2 linked regions of the Homo sapiens genome follow. The protein of the gene in region 1 interacts with the protein of each later gene in a biochemical or structural test. Each region holds a gene or a part of one and is shown on either strand. Other genes may lie near its edges. The genes, in order: PTCH1 and TSPAN8.

The links.
Region 2: the proteins of PTCH1 (region 1) and TSPAN8 form a complex in vitro, tested with the Homo sapiens proteins (one study listed by BioGRID).

The regions. Positions count from the first base shown.
Region 1 is NC_000009.12:95,441,699-95,452,205, reverse strand, and holds the end of PTCH1 (protein patched homolog 1), read left to right. Parts: intron 1-2,265; coding exon 2,266-2,365; intron 2,366-2,882; coding exon 2,883-3,137; intron 3,138-4,754; coding exon 4,755-5,294; 3' UTR 5,295-5,295; intron 5,296-5,814; 3' UTR 5,815-9,226; downstream 9,227-10,507.
Region 2 is NC_000012.12:71,138,852-71,149,358, reverse strand, and holds part of TSPAN8 (tetraspanin-8), read left to right. Parts: intron 1-5,145; coding exon 5,146-5,208; intron 5,209-9,510; coding exon 9,511-9,648; intron 9,649-10,507. UniProt on the Homo sapiens protein: Structural component of specialized membrane microdomains known as tetraspanin-enriched microdomains (TERMs), which act as platforms for receptor clustering and signaling.

The sequences.
Region 1 (10,507 bases):
GGGCAATTTGGCATCATGGAGGCCGCCTTCTTAGAATGAGTGCCAAGCTTGCTTATTGTAGTTTTTGCATAGAGTGAATGGTGAAGTGGAATCGCTGTAGACCAGCGCTTCTCACACCGATGTGCTGAGGAATCATCTGAGGGTCTAAGTGCAGGGCCGATTTCGGGGGGCGGGAGGTGGGATGAGGGCTGGGTCTGCATCTCCAGCTACCTCCCTGCAATGTCCATGGAGCTAGACTTCTCAGCACAAACTACTGCTAAGCCAGCAAGCCAGTTCCTAAATTCCTGTTTGCCAATACCAAGTAGAGAGTTGCCCAACTGAGTTAAATGTTTTGGTCTGTGTTTTATTTTAGTTCTTAGTTTGATTTTAGCTTTTCCTTTGTTCTTAGTATACACTTTTTCAGGCACTAACGTTATCATTATGATATAAAAGCTCAATGTCAAGTAGAGTTTCTTTTGCATATTTACTTTCTCGTTTAACACAAATATAACAAGCACCCCATAAGTGCCATTTGCACAACAGCAAATAATGGGGACCCCCATATCCCTCTGTGTAGCCTAAGGTCTTTTAGGGGAGAGACAAGTTCACAGGCAAAACCAGGGGAAATGCAAGGTGTGCTGGGGTCTCATGAGTTACAGGAGGGTCTCGCTCAGCCTTGTGGGGGATGCTGAATGAGGAAACTTAGCCTGAATTAGAGCCCCCAGCTGGAAACCTGGCAGCTGGAATCCCAGCGCTCTCCTCTCAGCCGGGGTTGTTCCCGCCCAGAAATATCAGGGTTCCTCTTTCAAGCACTTAAAAGGGCTTCCCATTTTCTAGGATGGGATGGATTAACCTGATAAAGGCCTCACCAAGGTCAAATAAATGAGCAGACACTGTATATGCTAAGCCGTCAGAAATCTAATTGGCCTGTTTATGCTTCAGCTAGATGGATGGGATGCAAATGTCTTAATGTGGCTGCTGATACATGCCCCAGCCGAAAGTTCCAGCAGTTTACATTAGACCAAGACATTGGCTGCTTGGTTTTTACTAATGTAGTTCAGAAGTTTCTAGTGTTTACAATAGCTGTGAGGTATTTGTATTTTTATGGGGATTCTCTCTCCTTTCATCTGATGTCAAAACATATATAGACATGGCAGCACTGGTTGCCTGTTCCATTTTATGAACCAGAGGACCATTAACAGATAGATATCTTGCCCCCCCCTTCCCAGAACATCCTGAGCCTCTCCCCTACCCCAGCCCACTTCCATCAGAGTTGCCCTAGAAATCATTAGTTCCAGAAACGCATCCCTGCGTGGAGTCTGTGCCCTCCAGCCATGCAGAGTGTCTGCCAGAGGCTGTCCCTGGCTGACAGGTTTACCTTGGTATTCATGAAGGATTCCAGACCTTAGCCCTCAATGGTGGGAAAGCAGAACTACTTCTGCACTCTCCTCCTCTGCCATGGTGCTGCGGCCTTTATGTTTGAATTGGCTGACGCAAAACAAGAGTATTCAGAGATGCTAAATTGTTCAACAAAAGATTGGCCCGCAGAGCAGCCCCGCCATTGTGGAGTGCCCTCACCCAGCACAATGCCCCAGCTCCCACAGAATGGGCAGCATTTTCTTTGCAGAAAGCTGGTTCCTGTGTTCTAAAAAGGTTGCAATTGGAGCTATTTGGTAAAACTGGAACTCACAGAATTCTAGGCAGAAAGTTGTGATTAATGAAAGGCCAGGGAAAGCCTTACCTGATATGCTAGAGACTTAATTAGAGATTCTGCCGTAAGATGCAGAAGCATTTCACAGTGGATTAGCAGCCTGCAGAAGTGGGCTGCTTTTCCTCCTGGGCTAAATTGTTTAAATTCTACACCCTTCACTTCATTTGTTTGCTTCTGCTGGGTTTTCACGAGCGGGGCCCCTCGGCATTGTGTTTGTGCTTTCAGTCTGCCCAGCCATTCAGGTCGCATTCCATATTTTTGTGTTTGTGTAACACATTCATAAATAACATTACATGCCATCAGAGTTCAGCAAATTAACAAACTAATTTTTTTTTTCTTCCCTTCATGAACTAACACTTTGGGTTGTGGAATGTAGTCCTCAAAGTCATAAGGTAAAGAAACAAAAAGCAAAAACTCACCTTGTGTTGAATGTGAACTGCGGTTGGATAACAGCCTTTTCAGTGGGGTGGGTTTTGTTCATTTCTGGCGTTGCCATGCTGCTGTGTCGGGCACACGGAGGGTGGCGCGATCCACCCTGTCACAGCGCGTGTTCCCGTTTCCTCTTGATCTCCCAGGTATTTCTTTGCTGTGCTGGCGATCCTCACCATCCTCGGCGTTCTCAATGGGCTGGTTTTGCTTCCCGTGCTTTTGTCTTTCTTTGGACCATATCCTGAGGTCAGTAGTGACACGGGGATGTCCCACGTGTAGGCCGGCTGAATGCTGTGTTTCCTGTGCCGCTCTTCACTTCGATACTTAGGTGCCTCCCCACTTGCTGGTGGTTCTTCAGTAAACATCTCAGAGTCATGTCTGTTTTCCTCTTCGGTGTACTGGCTTTGAGGGCTAGAGGGCGGGTTCGGTTTGGTTCCTCTAAATCAACTGATTGGCAGCCTGGGTCTTACAGATCTTTATACAGTAAATGAAGACTTTCCCCTTGAGATGCATAATTGGACTTCACAAGAGTAAAAAGTACACATCCTGCCTTTCCAGTGTGGAGCAGAGGACAGTTCTTCTGCTCCAGCTGCGGGACCTGAAGGTCCTCCAGGTGGTAGAGAAGGGGAGGTTAATACGGCACAGTGCGCAGGGCCCCAGGGCAGGGAACAGAGGCCCCTGAAAAATACCGTGCTTTGAGCTTTGAGTGTGGCCAGCAGGTAAATGGACAAGAACACTTTTAACATGGAATCCCCTTAAATAGGTGTCTCCAGCCAACGGCTTGAACCGCCTGCCCACACCCTCCCCTGAGCCACCCCCCAGCGTGGTCCGCTTCGCCATGCCGCCCGGCCACACGCACAGCGGGTCTGATTCCTCCGACTCGGAGTATAGTTCCCAGACGACAGTGTCAGGCCTCAGCGAGGAGCTTCGGCACTACGAGGCCCAGCAGGGCGCGGGAGGCCCTGCCCACCAAGTGATCGTGGAAGCCACAGAAAACCCCGTCTTCGCCCACTCCACTGTAAGTGACTCTGCAGAACCAGGGGGAGGGGTCTTCCCACCGTGGTAGTGGGCCTGGAGGTCCAGCGGGGGCTCCTGTCTGCTGAGCAGCACATCACACAGGCAGATGGGATGCAGAGATAAGGTACAGACTAGGTCAAATCATAGGAAATAACCAGTATTTAACTCTTTCTCAACTATACAAATGCCATCTTCCTGTGGTTTGATCTCATAAAGGATAAAAAGGGCAGGGGCCAGTAATGTCACTGCACAAAGCAGTAGCATCTATCTTGTTCAGGGTGAGGACAGTTTGGGCTTCAAAGGCCAGAGATAAAGCATTCCTGCCTTTTTTTTTTTTTTCCTCTTAAGGTGCATGTCATTTGAGAGTGATATTTTCTAAAACTAGTAGTATTTTTATTGCCAACAGAGGTCAGGTTTTTTCCTTCTCTCATTTCTGTTAGGTTTCAATGCCCTTGATACAACATTCATTATTATTGTCTAAATACTTTACCATAGCTTTTGGGGCTCCAAGCTCATGTTCCAGGTGGCAGGAAAGAGCAGAGAGGCCAAGAACCACCCCTGAGTTCTTAGCCTTCAGTGATTCAGGAGGTCACCAGGAGCCTGGGAGCCCCTCCTCGGAGGCTCCAAGGACCTGGGTCCTTTCCTCCACCCTGTGCTCCCTGGGATGGGCTCAGCCCTGAAAACTCAAGGAAGGTTCTGGGCTGATGTTGCTCCACTGAGGGCCCCCTGCTGTCCCTCCAGGAAATGGGTATTCCAGTCCCAGGCCAGAGCAGCCCTTCCGTGAAAGAGAGAAAGGCCAACCAAATAACCTGAATTGTCCTCCTCCTACCCCCCGCGACGACGCCCGCTGAGCTGCAGTGTGAATCTGGTTTTGTTCAGCAGGAGCCTAAAAATAGGTACAAGCTGAACGACTTTGAAGTTGGTCACGGTCCTTTTGATTGATGTGGCCACTGTGTTGCTCTGTGCTTTGTATAGAGACGCAGAGACCAGATTCTTAACAATCAGATGGAACAGGCTGCCCGCCACAGCCCTCCGCAGTGACGAAAATGCCCTCTCTGCTTTCCAGGATGGGAGCCACCGGCCACACGTGGCTGTGGAGCACTTGAAATGTGGCCGGGGCTACCGAGGAGCTGGATTTTGGATTTTAGTTCATTAAAACTTAAGCAACCACATGTCTGGAGCGGCTACTGTGTTTGACAGAGTAGGCAGAGACAGTCCTGCCAGCGTCCTGCACTCAGGCCAGCCAGGGCCGCACACTTAGCAACTTCGGGAGAGGGGCAGCTCAGAGCCTGCAGAACCTAACAGGGTCGGGGGCAGGTTGTGGGGGGCAGCAGCTTGGATGCTCTGACCACAGCCCACATTTATGGGCAGCAGCAGTACGTGTCCAGCCAGCCGTGTCAGAGAAAGCCTGGAAACAGGATTTTCAAACAACACGCTCCTCCGCCAGGTCCTGGAGGTTATTAGAAGGACAGGCTTTTCTTTTGTGGGTGGAAGGCCCCCATTGGCTCCCCAGGGTTGACTGAGTCTTTGGTGAAACCCAAGGAGGGAAGTGTGGGAGCTGCGGGGACCATGCCCAGCCTGGGATACCACCCTTCTAACCCACCCTCACCCTCTGCAGGTGGTCCATCCCGAATCCAGGCATCACCCACCCTCGAACCCGAGACAGCAGCCCCACCTGGACTCAGGGTCCCTGCCTCCCGGACGGCAAGGCCAGCAGCCCCGCAGGGACCCCCCCAGAGAAGGCTTGTGGCCACCCCCCTACAGACCGCGCAGAGACGCTTTTGAAATTTCTACTGAAGGGCATTCTGGCCCTAGCAATAGGGCCCGCTGGGGCCCTCGCGGGGCCCGTTCTCACAACCCTCGGAACCCAGCGTCCACTGCCATGGGCAGCTCCGTGCCCGGCTACTGCCAGCCCATCACCACTGTGACGGCTTCTGCCTCCGTGACTGTCGCCGTGCACCCGCCGCCTGTCCCTGGGCCTGGGCGGAACCCCCGAGGGGGACTCTGCCCAGGCTACCCTGAGACTGACCACGGCCTGTTTGAGGACCCCCACGTGCCTTTCCACGTCCGGTGTGAGAGGAGGGATTCGAAGGTGGAAGTCATTGAGCTGCAGGACGTGGAATGCGAGGAGAGGCCCCGGGGAAGCAGCTCCAACTGAGGTGAGTGCCACTGACAAGGGCAGCCAAGGGACCTAGAGCCAGGCAAAGAGGAGGACAAGGTTCTCCTGGGGTTCTCGGCATCCCCGAGGGGCTGTGGCGCTCGGGCACATCCCACGCTGGACCCCAGTGACCTTTTATCCCCAGAGCAAGGCTGATGTGTCCAAGCTTTGTCATCCTTGGGGAACCAGTCCAGCTCCACACTGCTCTCTTCCCCCACTGCTAACCTGCGGAGGGTCGGTGCAGCGCCACAAGGACACAAACAGCACCACCTTTTACCAATATTTGCCAGTCTTTATGGAGGTGCATGCCACAGCGAATTGGTCACATGGGAACGCATCCGTGTAACCAGCCCCCAGATGAAGGGAGAGGTCACAAGCAGCCCCCAGGGACACCTCAGGCCCACACCCCACTCTCGTGATTTCTAATACCAAGGTTACTGCTGCCTGCTTTTGTACTTTATAAATACGGACTTGCACACCTCTTACTCTGTTCAACTTCCTTTTTTGCTTCCTTTTAAAGGGTGATTAAAATCTGAAGCAAAGAGGCCAAAGATTGGAAACCCCCCACCCCCACCTCTTTCCAGAACTGCTTGAAGAGAACTGGTTGGAGTTATGGAAAAGATGCCCTGTGCCAGGACAGCAGTTCATTGTTACTGTAACCGATTGTATTATTTTGTTAAATATTTCTATAAATATTTAAGAGATGTACACATGTGTAATATAGGAAGGAAGGATGTAAAGTGGTATGATCTGGGGCTTCTCCACTCCTGCCCCAGAGTGTGGAGGCCACAGTGGGGCCTCTCCGTATTTGTGCATTGGGCTCCGTGCCACAACCAAGCTTCATTAGTCTTAAATTTCAGCATATGTTGCTGCTGCTTAAATATTGTATAATTTACTTGTATAATTCTATGCAAATATTGCTTATGTAATAGGATTATTTTGTAAAGGTTTCTGTTTAAAATATTTTAAATTTGCATATCACAACCCTGTGGTAGTATGAAATGTTACTGTTAACTTTCAAACACGCTATGCGTGATAATTTTTTTGTTTAATGAGCAGATATGAAGAAAGCACGTTAATCCTGGTGGCTTCTCTAGGTGTCGTTGTGTGCGGTCCTCTTGTTTGGCTGTGCGTGTGAACACGTGTGTGAGTTCACCATGTACTGTACTGTGATTTTTTTTTTGTCTTGTTTTGTTTCTCTACACTGTCTGTAACCTGTAGTAGGCTCTGACCTAGTCAGGCTGGAAGCGTCAGGATATCTTTTCTTCGTGCTGGTGAGGGCTGGCCCTAAACATCCACCTAATCCTTTCAAATCAGCCCGGCAAAAGCTAGACTCTCCTCGTGTCTACGGCATCTCTTATGATCATTGGCTGCCATCCAGGACCCCAATTTGTGCTTCAGGGGGATAATCTCCTTCTCTCGGATCATTGTGATGGATGCTGGAACCTCAGGGTATGGAGCTCACATCAGTTCATCATGGTGGGTGTTAGAGAATTCGGTGACATGCCTAGTGCTGAGCCTTGGCTGGGCCATGAGAGTCTGTATACTCTAAAAAGCATGCAGCATGGTGCCCCTCTTCTGACCAACACACACACGACCCCTCCCCCAACACCCCCAAATTCAAGAGTGGATGTGGCCCTGTCACAGGTAGAAAAACCTATTTAGTTAATTCTTTCTTGGCCCACAGTCTCCCAGAAATGATGTTTTGAGTCCCTATAGTTTAAACTCCCTCTCTTAAATGGAGCAGCTGGTTGAGGCTTTCTAGATCTGTTTGCATCTTCTTTAAAACTAAGTGGTGAGCATGCATTGTGGTGTAGAGGCAGGCATTATGTAGGATAAGAGCTCCGGGGGGATTCTTCATGCACCAGTGTTTAGGGTACGTGCTTCCTAAGTAAATCCAAACATTGTCTCCATCCTCCCCGTCATTAGTGCTCTTTCAATGTGATGTGGGAAAGCAGGAGGATGGACACACCCCACTGAAAGATGTAGGCAGGGGCAGGTCTCTCAACCAGGCATATTTTTAAAAGTTGCTTCTGTACTGGTTCTCTTCTTTTGCTCTGAGGTGTGGGCTCCCTCATCTCGTAACCAGAGACCAGCACATGTCAGGGAAGCACCCAGTGTCGGCTCCCCATCCAAATCCACACCAGCACCTTGTTACAGACAAGAAGTCAGAGGAAAGGGCGGGGTCCCTGCAGGGCTGAAGCCTAAGCTACTGTGAGGCGCTCACGAGTGGCAGCTCCTGTTACTCCCTTTTAAATTACCTGGGAAATCTTAACAGAAAGGTAATGGGCCCCCAGAAATACCCACAGCATAGTGACCTCAGACCCTGATACTCACCACAAAACTTTTAAGATGCTGATTGGGAGCCGCTTGTGGCTGCTGGGTGTGTGTGTGTGTGTGTGCGTGCGTGCGTGTGTGTGTGTCTCTGCTGGGGACCCTGGCCACCCCCCTGCTGCTGTCTTGGTGCCTGTCACCCACATGGTCTGCCATCCTAACACCCAGCTCTGCTCAGAAAACGTCCTGCGTGGAGGAGGGATGATGCAGAATTCTGAAGTCGACTTCCCTCTGGCTCCTGGCGTGCCCTCGCTCCCTTCCTGAGCCCAGCTCGTGTTGCGCCGGAGGCTGCGCGGCCCCTGATTTCTGCATGGTGTAGAACTTTCTCCAATAGTCACATTGGCAAAGGGAGAACTGGGGTGGGCGGGGGGTGGGGCTGGCAGGGAATTAGAATTTCTCTCTCTCTTTTAATAGTTTTATTTTGTCTGTCCTGTTTGTTCATTTGGATGTTTTAATTTTTAAAAAAAAAAAAACTTTGCTGATATTTATAATTTTGTATCATAAGAATGTTTTCCTCTACAGTATTTGTCATGCCAGTTTATAACAAAAAAAAATGCAGGGATTTTATTTCTATTGGAAACATTACAGCTATGTTTTACTTTTGGACAGAATTTTTATTTGTATAGAGTGCTTACTAATGTTAAATAGTTCAGAGTATATAACATTTACATTAAGGACTCATGGTAGGTTTTAGGGTAAGGAGTTTAAAGGAAATAAATATTCAAACTGGGTCTCATTGCCAATTTTGGTGGAAATGAGTTTGTGTCATTTCAATTACAAAGATAAAAGTATGCCATATAATTTATTTATATGAAGATTTATTTTTGTAGTGTACATAGTAGTCATCAAGTCTTTTGACAGAAGTATATTTTTAAAGAATTTATATGTGATGAATCCATAATGTCTGGAACTTTGCTGAGACATGAGTGGGCACAGTTTTCATTGTAAATTACAGCAAGGAAAGAAAATGTTTAACAGTGTTAAGAGAGTCAGAGCAGAGTGGATATTCATGCGATTATGAAGTGTTTATTAGTTACCATTGGCGACCTAGCATGCTTCTCATTTCAAACCTTGGAAGGTGAAAATGTACAAACTCTCTAAATAATTAATGTTCAAACACTGATAGAAATTCTAACATGAATAAAAAATAATATAACTTGTTGGTTATATCTTTGTTTGTAGAATGCTTTTTTTCTTTAAAATACTTGGGAGAGACAGTTAGTGTTGGAGCCATCAGAAACTGTTGTTTCATCTTGCTGACCTTGTGACACTCTTCTTTTTTGCTCTATCTGATGGAGAGAGTTTTAGGTTTTCCTCCTTTTTGTTTTGTATAAATAGTGGGTATAAGCATAGCTCTGTTACATGGATGTATTACAAAGTGGGGGCTGAGCTTTTAGTGTGATCATCACCCAAATAGTGTACATTGTACCCATTAATTAATTTCTTATCACCTGACCCTATTTTTGTTTTCTCATACCAAGAAACTTCCTAAGTTAACCATCAAAATTAGTCCTTCTGTCATCTCTCTTAGCATACTTATTTCCCTTATGTGATGCCTAATAATGAGGGAACATAAATAAAGCCAAATTCAAAGATGATTATCATCAGTGAAGGTGTCATACTTCTAAACAGTGTCAAAGATAATATGGAATTGATTGAACCTGATACAGAACAGTTTTTGAGTGTTTCCTGGTAAGCAATGATTTCATCATAGGCATGGAGAAAAATATGGCCAGGAATATCATGTCCATGTTACAGCTGTGTAAGCAAGGAGTGGTGGGGCTGAACTCAAGGCCCACACTGCTGTGCACATGGGCAAGTTGCAGAGGGGTCAGTGAGCCACAGCCGGCTGGCCATGTCCTGTTGCACAGGTTCATGAGGAGAGAGTCGTGCCTGTTGCCGCACATGTTGTTGATGGCTGTTTTTCTGCTGCAACGGCAGAGTTCAGTAGCTGCAACACAGACTATGGTCTGCAGAGACTATGATATTTACTATCTGGCCGTAAGACACCTGCCAATCCATCTCTAGACAAGGTAACATAGGCCAGTGCTAGTCAAGTGTGGTCCACGAATCAGCCTGCCTTGGAAGCTTGCTAGAAAAACCGAATCCAACACCACCTAACTCAGAATCTTGGAGTGAGGTCCAGGAATCTGCTTTAACGATCTGTCCTGGTGGTTGTGATGCACCAGCGGAGGCGATCCCGAAATTCCAGCTGAGTGTGGCCAGGTTCTATCATTTGGCTTCGGCTCCTGGGCCAGTGCGGGCCGGATCTGGAAATGGCACAGAGATACCGACTCCACTGTGTGGTCCTTTCACAAAACACATGCTCCTCTGTGGGTGAGCCCAGGCCAGGAGCTTGACTGTTACGTCTGGGAGTCCAGAGTGAGGAACTCCCTTCTTAGTGCTCACCCCACAGTGAGGGAGGACCTGGAAGGAGAGTGTGGGCCCCTTTCCTAGAGGGGAGGGGGAGCCACGCCGGGCCCTTCCACGGAGAGGGCTCCCTGTCACCCACTTGACTGGCTTGGGCAAGTCTCTTAAAACCCCAGAGCCTGTGTGTCCTCATCTGTAAATTAAAGAGATAAATATCCCTTGAAAACTTCTGAAGGGTGGCAGCAGTGATGCTGGTGACGAGGTCTGGATCTCAGGGGCTGGCCGGAGTCGTCTGAGTGAGAATTGGACAGCCCCATCCTGAGGACCCCACTCCAAACCCCAGTTCAATCACCAGCTCTGCCTCAGGGTTCCCATCTTGAAGATGACAAGGGCTCCCCATAGAAACAATGGGCGCTGCTATGGGAATAGTTCATGTTTACTGAGCCCCTCTTGGGAGGCATTTGAGGTAGCACAGTAAATTCTGACCAAGGAATAAGATGTTCAGGTAA
Region 2 (10,507 bases), on another chromosome or scaffold:
TTTGCTCTTGTTGCCCAGGCTGGAGTGCAATGGCGTGATCTTAGCTCACTGCAACCTCCACCTGCCGGGTTCAAGCAATTCTCCTGCCTCAGCCTCCTGAGTAGCTGGGATTACAGGCACGTGCCACCACACTCGGCTAATTTTTTTGGTATTTTTAGTAGAGACAAGGTTTCACCATGTTGGCCAAACTGGTCTTGAACTCCTGACCTTAGGTGATCCACCTGCCTCAGCACATTCTACTCTGAATGAACTCTAAATCAGAATTGGTCTCATCTTTTTCAAGGAAATTTAGCATAAGACCTAATAAAAAATACTGTTGAACAAGTGAAAGATATTGCCACCCTGAAGACTTAGAGGACAAGCACACATCCCTGAAATAAATATTCTAGAATCCTGAAAAAATGTATGTAGAAATTGGTATCCACAATGTGATGCTAGAAAGTAACCTCTCATGAAACAGTGAATGGAGGCCATAAGAGAAAATAAAATTTATTGGAAAACAACGGGATGAGATAAAAAGGGAAATGGATAAAATATGTAAGGACTGCAAGTAAACTACAAACATAATAGCAGAATTAAACTTCACTGTAGAGATCACATTAAATAAAGACAGTGACATAGAATCCCAAACTGATAAGCTTTCCCACAGGAAAATCAAATAAGAAATCAGAATATTGTGAAAGAAGATAATAGATACAGACAACAGAGAATGGAAACCCAAAATAAGCTGTACTCCTGAAAAAGAGGACAAAATAAATGGAACACAAATAATAATCAAATTAATATATGGAAATTTTGTGGAGCTGAAAACATACCTGTATGCAGATGGCAAGTGCCTGATCTACCCCAGTGAAAGAAGACATCTATGCCTAAATAAATGTTAAGAAAACTACTAACTTAGTTAAAAGATAAATAAACATCTTACAAATGTCTAGATACAACTGACAAAAAAGAAAACAAGCAAATAATGCATGAACGAAAATAAGGCTGGTGATATTCTTCTCCTATTGTAACCCTGAAAGTCAGAAGACAATGAAACAATGTCTGCTGAGTATTCAGAGCCTTTCACAAATGAATAAGAGAGAAAGAGATCTTCAGGTATTCACACTGTAAAATTTACTGAAACATATCCAAAATGATTAAGGTATAAGTAAAAATGGATAATTGAAGCATGGGAAAATCATGGTTAAATGGCTAACCATTTTAGGTCTGGAAATAAAGAAGTCACATGTCTAAATAGTTATATTTTTTATTATCTCAAATGTAGATTGGAAGGATATTTGGAAAGAGATGTAATAGAAAATAGCAATTTAGTAACATTTACTCTGCGCTAAAGCCCAAGACTGATTACACTAAATAGCATTTATTGGATTATATGGAGGGAACACTGTTAGAGATACAGAATAGTAAATGCAAACTCCATTAATTCAGCTTAACACAACTTAACCTGCCTCTCAGTTTTTGATAACTCAGGAAGGAAAAGAAAAAACATGGATACAGGGGATCTAAATGATTTAATGAATAAAGTATATTTACTAAATTTCTAATAAACTTTGTACCCTCTTGAGACTTTGTTGTCTTTTCTAGTATCTCTGAATCTTTAGAAATTGATGAAGGAAATGCAAAAAAACTCACAAGTAACAATCCTACAGTCTGCATTCTCTTACCACAATACAATTGAACTAAGACTTTTAAATAAATGTTTAGTAAAAGAAACTTGAAAATGAACAATAACAGTAGCAGCAGCAGTACAGTCCTAGTATGTTAGGGCTTTCGGAATCCTTGTTCCCTATAATCATGGAGTCGCCTCTAGTGTTCTGTGTTTATCATAAAAACAAATCTTGTAGTTATCCACTTGCATATTTTCTTATTCTTTTTTATCCTCTCAGGAGCAGCACAAGAAGAGTTTCTTAAGCTTACCTAAAAGGTGTCCATTTTGGGACCAATAATGATGTAGTTCAAAATCCACTCCTCCTCCTAACACAGCATTTTCAGCATTCTCCAAACATACTTCAATAAACACCAAATAAAAGGGTACAATTTGGAGGGAAGAAGTAGGGATGATTGGAGACACATTATCAAAGAAAAGGACAAATCAACATTCTACCATTTATCTTTCTTCTGGATGGTATCTTCCCCCGCCCCCTTTTTTTTCCTGATATTTTATGGTCTTCAGCATCTGCCTGTTCTTAGTCATCTGCTTGGGCTCTCATAACAAGATACTGTAGACTGGGTGGCTTAAACAACAGAAATTAATTTTCTTATAGTTCTGGAGGCTAGGAAGGCTAAGATTAAGGTGCCAGCCAACTGAGTTTCCGGTGAGGACCCTCTTTCTGTGGCCATCTTCTCATGTTCTCACATGTCCTTTCCCTGGGTATGAGTAGAGAAAGAAAGATTTATCTCCTATAAGGTCACCAGTTCTATCAGATTATAACCCCATCTTCATGACCTCATTTAATCTTAATTATCTTCTAAAAGCCTATCATCAAAAACAGATACATTGGAGGTTAGGGCTTCAACATATGAATTTTGTGGAGACACAATTCAGTCCATTATAAGCAAATATCAAAATTGCCTAATTTCTTAGGATGCTGGTCCAGACCAATTGCATCCAAATTCCATAAAATGATGGCTGTTCCATGAAAGCTGAATGAAAACCAGAACAATTCTCAAAGAGAGACCAGAAGCAGGGGAAAGGTAGGCCTAGTCAGTTCCACAGGGTCCTGGAACCACCATACTAACCCATTTTACTTTTACAATGTTATTAACGAAAGTAGAGAGCAGGCATTTATTTATTAATTTATACTTTTAATTGTTTAAAATAGTATAAAAACATTAGGGGAAAAGCTCTAAAAGCTAAACTTGGTAAAGGGCTCCAAGTACCATTATGATGGTCAATCTTTTAACAATGGGATGAAATAGTTTAGTATTATTCATGACTCTAGGATGGTCATTCTTGATAGAAAATAAATTGACTTTCAAAGTCATTCAACAAAGTTACGAATAATTTCATGATATTAGACTGATATTTACATGGGAATTTCTCCACTCAAATGAGAATGATATACTCTAAACATTTGTTTCATTTTTAAAATGAAGTTTGAAGAAAAGATAAGAGTTAGGGGTGGAAATGATACTTTGGCCAACTTCAAAGTTCCTGAGAAAGATTGTCTAATTCTGAAGATTAGTTGGGCAAAATATTTTTGACTTCTGAAACAACTGGTTACTCTTTCTTTTAAATGTTAATGTTACAGAAAATTTTCAGTGGCTGAGAAGACTAAAAGTTGCTATCTGAGGGGCAGATATGATTGATTTAATAAGATTTATGAATGATCTGATATCTAAATACCTTGAAAAAGTGAATAGTGATACACGAACAAAAAAAGTTTTAAAAAATATCACACTGAGTTCTTACTAAGCTCTTACTAAGAATTCTTAAAGTTTTTTCGTTGATAGTTTAACAAATATCAGGAAAGAATGCTACTCATAATAGCTACAAGGTTCATTAGTTACAGATGAAGGCCAGAATGACTATTAAGCCAATCATTATGAATCTGCTTGTGAAAAGAGAAGAAAACGAAAGAAGATAATCAGTGAACAAACTAAACAACAAACAAAAAATTCAGTTGGTATGAAATTACTGAAAATCCCAGAGGGTCTCATTATCATTTGACATAAATTATCACTCACAAACTGTTTAACAAAGGACTGCTAAAATGAGCATTTGTCTTTGTTTGCAAATGAAATTAGAATTTTGTGAAAGGATGCTATAAATCTCAGGGTTAGAGAAGTAAGGAAAGTTTTCAAACACGAAAGCTGTGTTTTTTAATCATTTGTATTTTATGGTGTGTGTGTGTCTATGTGTGTGTATGAGATAATTGCATAGGTTATTTGGTGGTTAAAGAGCTTTGGTTTTTAATTGCATTAGTTATTTTGTAGGAGCTGAAGTATGTTGTAAGGGCAGATTGGTTAGGAATTGCTCCGGGTTTTCATGATGTAATAATTAGCGCCCAGGATTCCAATTTCTCCATTCAAAATGAGAGGTTTAGACCTAGATGATTTTCAAGGTCTTTTAGGGAGCACAGAGTCTATGGTTACTCAACTACTCATTGTGCTTCCTATTCCTTAACAGAGCCCTTGACTCTATTTCCCCTGCAAACTCAATGAGAAGCCATTAAAAGTGCTGTCTTGGGGTTCTAGGCGTATGTCTCAACCATGCACGAAAGCAATGATGCTCCAAGGACATTTGTCTGTCAGAGCACAGCAAGGTCAGAATTGTCTACTAAGTCCCCCAAGGCCTGCTGTGTCTGGTATGTTACCAGACACAGCTCTTAACATCTCTATCTAATAATAGATCTTTGATTTTTGTTTTTGAAGCCACAATGCATAACTTTTTTTTTTAAACCCTGAATGACAAGAGTTTTCCTTACACTAAAGTAAAATGTGTTTTACATTTTATTGTGTTGGCATTGGTCCAAATTAAATAATCTGGTAAAATCATTAAAGGAATTTAAGACTTCAAGTTCTGTCTTTCATTGTTCCTTCTCTGTGAGTAAACTTTACCACCTAAAAGAGCTTGTTTTTAAGAGAGTTTATTTGGGTTCAAAAAGTGTTGATTATTATATAGCCTTGTTGCTTAACTGCACATCTTGTCGTATGTTTTACTTTTTCCCCCTCTATCCCAACATCTCCCTTCCTGTCGAATCTTAAATGAATGGTGACTATTCCGTCATTCCCTTTTTTCCTGGTCCAACATAGCTTCTCACAAACAAGCCCAGAGGCATGATAAGGATATTTTATCTTTAAACTGTTGTGACTTTTCTTTTGTATGCTAAAATCTAGCAGAAACACAGGGCTAGAGTTACATGGAAAAATAATCTTTCCAGGCCTAATGGAAATAACTTCTTGTCCATAGAGCTGTGAGTGAGTTGTGGATGAGAAATAGAATTATTCTCATCAAACTTACACATTGCAATTTAACATTTCAACAATGATCTGTATATGAATATGCCTCATTTATGTCTTCCAGGTTGTGATAGTATAGTCGATGATGAACTACTGTCACCGGATAGATAGGAGGGTGTGGAAATAGAGTTTCATATGATCCTAATTGTATTCTTTTTGTTTGTTTGTTTTTTTCTGCAGCTATGTGGTATCTTGATCCTAGCATTAGCAATATGGGTACGAGTAAGCAATGACTCTCAAGCAGTAAGTATGCAAAAACAAGTCACCCTTTCCCCAATGTAGTTTATTTCATTTATAATAATGAAAGTTATAACAATAATAGTAATAAACATGTCTAAAACATTTTTCTTAACTGCTTCATGTAATCACTTGTGCTGTTATGTGATTTTATAATTCAGTTCAATCAATTAAAATTACTATGTGGCTGGCACTGTGCTAGATGTGGAAAAATCTTTCTAGAGAATGGAGGAGGTGTTATTCAAAAATTCAAAAAAATTCAGTGAGATGCAGGTGGGAAGGGGCCAAAGTGGAAATTTTCCTCCTTTACTATTTGTTTAAGGCCTATATTGAGGATATAGGCCACCTCTCCTTCTCACCAAGAAGAATAATTTTTATAGTAGAAGGTTTTGACAATAATTTAGTTGATCCCAATGTGGTTGGTCCAAAAGGAAAGAAAATGAGAAGTTTTCTTGGAGAAGAATAATTTGAATCTGTATTTTAAAGGCAACAAGGTACAAGGGTACTTGTTATTTACCTGTGGCAACTGGCAGTGAAGGTAACCACTTGCCAGTAGTGGCTAATCTAACTTGGTGAAACTCAGTAATTCTCTGGGGATGTCCAGATTATTGCTATATGTATAAGATGAACATGACCCATTTTCCTCCCCCACACACCATTCCGTGCCCAGTGCCAAAGCTCTTACCCAGATCTACAGGTCTGGAGGAAGTGTATTTCGTATGGTTAATTCTGGCTCCAGCTATTGGACCCCATACGTGTGGTATCTGTTCCATGCCACAGTATCACAAATGTGGAAAGGGTTGGGGGAAGAGGGAGGGGCGAGTGTGCGGGGATTGTTCTGTCAGTTTTACGGAACATAATACCACCCTGGCACCATTTCCTGGCTCCCGTGCTTTTATTCTTTTCTCTCCCTTCTTCTATTCTGGGGCTCCATCCCCACAAATTATTATTCTAACACATTCAGAGCCATTAATTTGTTCTTTGTTTTCTGGGCTCTTGCCACTAAAGGATCACCTCTTCTACTGCTAGAGCCTTTTTAAGGTATTTGCCCACATAAAGAGAGTTTCTCCTCTCTGAGAAGAATTTTGATTCCAAGTTGATAATTACTGAGAGATTTATTAAGCCAGCAATTAAGACAATGCATTTTCTACTAAAACGTATTTCACCATGGTGCAGCTAAATGCCTTTGAACACAGCCTAGTGGAAAGGAAGATGAAAAGGGAATTAATGTCTGCTCTGTTTTCTTCGCTGCAGTGGGTGGCTTTTCTGAAAATTTCTTTCTCACTCTATCTCTGTTTTTTTTTTTTTTGTTTTTTTCCTCTCTCTCTCTCCTGTTGTTCTTTTCCTTTTAAAATTGCTTTCTGCCCTTAGGGAGCCCAGAGGATCACAGTGGCAATTAGCGGCTTCCACATTCTGTGCCTCACCATGGTGAAGAAATTGGGTGGGAGATGGGTGTGGCAGCTTTTTAGTAACATCCTAGTCCATCAGGATTTCACTTATTGTTTTCTACTGATAACCATAACTGTGACTTCCTGATGGCCTGGAGCTCTGGTGTGTGAGCCCAAGAAGTGCATTTGAAGATGTGCAGAATTACCATCCTGTAGAATCTGAAGTCTGACTTTGGGACTCATAATTAAGCACAGAGATTAACAGTCACCTACTTACAGGGTGCTGTGGCCTCTTCAAGATGTGTGTGTAGCCTGCAATTTATTTTATTTTAATTTTACTTCCTGTTGGTATTTTCTTTCCCTCCCAGTGCTTCTGGTAAACAAATTTGGTGTTTAGTCTGTTAAAAAATTGCACATATTGAATGTATTAAAGGGGAACTGTTGTCCTTGAGAGGGTGCTCCTCCACATCTGGGGATAAGAATGAATTAATAGAGCTAGACAGCATCTTTAGTTACGTTTTGACTCACGCTTCATCAGCCTCTCACACTGAACAAAAGCCAGTGTCTGCCAGGACAACATTAACCAGCTTGACTTATATAAAATTGGCTTGGTTTATATTTTTCTCAAGCCAGTGACAAAGAATCAAGACAGAGCAAAGAGCTGAATTTTTTGTTAGTGAAAAAACAGAGGTAGCTGTTTTGGAAGGAAAAACATGAGCATAAACACAGAAAAGAAGGATGTCAGGGAAATGACAGAACTTTCTGCTGAAGTGTCTCATGAAGACCCTTTTTTCTACCTCAGGATAAACTTAGCACCATGAGGAAAAGCACATGAGCAGCCATCCTTGTCCCAGGAGGTCCCTTCTGATCCAAAGAGGATTCCTGAGTCCTCATCTTTCAGGACCAGCTGAATTTCTCTGTCTTTAGAAATTCTCCCCTTGTCCTAAGACACACAGGGACACAGTGTTCATTCAAGACAGCTTTTCAAACCCTGCTGTTCCTCCCCTGGTGCAAACATCTGAACTCAGATTTCCACTTCATTCTTGAATAAGAATAACCACTTGTTGGGCTGGACTTGGAACAATGACCACTAGACAGTCAACACACTGCTTTCTGGCTAGTCTCTGGCAGTGGGTCACCCTGCCCAGGTTAGCCTCATAGAAGTGTCTCACTACCTGCTGCACAAGTGCTGGTCACACTATCTTGGCCTCATGTGTAGATATTTGAACTATTATTTGTATGTCTGGCATATCTTTTCTAAGTTCTGATAACCCAGCTAGCGAGGCTTCCATCCTCTCATAGGGTTTGCCTGTACTGGCCACAATATTCTAGTGAAGCAATATTTAGCAGGAAGTCCATAGAGCTAGTTTCCTAACACTTCTATTTTTGTCACATTTATTTTGATTCCAATGTCCTGCCTGTTTATTAACAAAACTGATTTTTTAGCTCTAATATTAATGAGAAAACAATAAAAACCAACAAACAAAAATCTTTAGGACTTAACCAAGCTTTCAAAATACGTAAATTGAAACATTATCTGTAAGCATAGACTTTTAGAGACAAAGGAGGCCTTGGCTATCACAGAGGTTGACCCAATTCCCTTTTATAAATGGGGAAACTGGAGCCCACTAGGTTGGGTGACTGTTCCAGGATTACAAACTTATTTATTAGGACCCTGACAAAATATAGATGTTTGTTTTAATGCTTTTATAACTTCAGCACATTCCTTCCTATTGACTGTTGAATAAAAGTTTCCTCTAGGCAATAAGTAGATTTAAAAAGCCTTGAGAAACAAAAATATCATTAGAACATAGCAGTCATTTTTGTATTGACTGTTAAGGGAGCTGACCTACATGCTATATAGCCCATTCTGGGAGGCAGAGGTTTCGAGTTAGTCTAGGAACTAGTGCTCTATCTAGAGACAGCCCAGTAGATAGAGGTTATAGAAGGCAAATGGGCTACATATAGGATTTATGCATAAGACACGCACAAGGCTTTACTTTTTAATTGTGATTTACTTCTGGATAAATCCACTTATCGAGGACAAGAGGTGGCTGAGGCTAAGTGTTATGAGGGTGATGAAGACGAGTATGTGTGTGTTGTTGGGAGAACTGAATTATGCCTGATGGGTAGCCCACCCACTATAAAGGGCTCTAGGATTTTTTTTCCCTTCATATCTCATTAACTAACAGTCAAAATAGAGTTTCTAGATGACTCTATGGACTATGGCTTTTGGGAACAAAGAGATAAAATAGATATGAAATATCAGGAACTGGATTTCTTTTTAATGAGGATACAAAGCATTTTTATTAACCCATGGAAGTTCCCTCATGTCCCTTTTCAGTTAACTCTTGCTTTCCCTTCTGCCTTGCTCAAAGTCAAGCACTGCTTTGATTTTTATAACCATAGTTTTGCTTATGATTGAACTTTATAGAAATGGAATCATACAGTATTTACTTTTTTCTATGGCTTCTTTAGCTCAGCATAATGACTCTGAAATTAATTCATATTGTTGTGTCTATCAATAGTTTAAAGAGCTTGAACTTTTTAAAGAATTAAAAACCATAACAACACATGCTTTTATAATGCACTTTATATAGAATACACAAAATATGTGAACCAAAGATTACATCAAGAAGAGTAAAAGTAACTGTCCTAAGCTTTTAAAAATACGGTTTAAAAAAACCTATTACATTTCTTCCACCCAGCTTTCATCATATCATTTTAGAAAAATATAAGCACTTCAATAGAATGTGAGCTCCATGAGGGCAAGGATTTGTACTTTTTAAGATCACTGATGTATTTCAGGGTCCTGGCACAGGACTTGACACATAGGAGGCACTCAATGGATATTTGTTGAATGAGCAAAATAAACTTCAAGGAAATAAATTTTCTGCCATTAATCTCTTTTTTACTTCAGATTTTTGGTTCTGAAGATGTAGGCTCTAGCTCCTACGTTGCTGTGGACATATTGATTGCTGTAGGTGCCATCATCATGATTCTGGGCTTCCTGGGATGCTGCGGTGCTATAAAAGAAAGTCGCTGCATGCTTCTGTTGGTGAGTTCTCCAAACAAATCCCAGTGTCCAACCTTCAGACTCCAGAGGATTCTCTCCCATCCCTATTGTCTGTTAAAAGAACGTGCCATGATTGATGAAACTCTAACTCCAACTTCTCTTTAGAAGGTTTGATTGTGGAAGCTGATATGGCTTAGATTTGGCTTAGTTTGGCTTAGAAACTGGAGGATACTCTGAGAGGAGACAAATTTTAATCATTCATCCATTCATTCATTCACTCATTCAACATTACTGCCATACCTCTATGTGTCAGATATTGTGCGAAATAATACATAAGACCTTTAGAACCTACTAGGGAAGGTTAATAAGTAAGCAAATAGCTACAGTGGGAGTGGCCCCAGAAGCAAAGGGCAAGACAGGGGATGGGATTTTCAAACCAGGGCAGAAGTGAATAAGGTATTTGTATGAGTGAGGGTAGGAAAAGCTTTCCGGAAAGACAACGTGGCAGTACAGTGCTGGTGTGTTTGGGAACTGAGAAGCCTTGGGTATGGCAGGAGACCGGCAAAACTGTTTCCAGTAAATGATGGAAGATGAATCCAAGTGTGGGTTGTGGTAAAATCATAGGTGTTCTACATGCCATGCTAAAAAAAAAGTTTAAATGAATGAGATAATCAGAATTATCTCTTAGAGAGCATTGAGGAGGATAAATTGGGTTTGGATAATTCACAGGCATTCACTTTTAACATATACAGTAGAAAATGGATATAGTAAAAATATTAGAAAAAAATCAAGTGTTTATCAGATACAAATATGACATAAAAGTTTATCAGGTCTAATCTAAACTTATTCCTCTAATAAAGTAAGGATTATATCAGTACCTGAGAAAAATGTTCAAAACTGT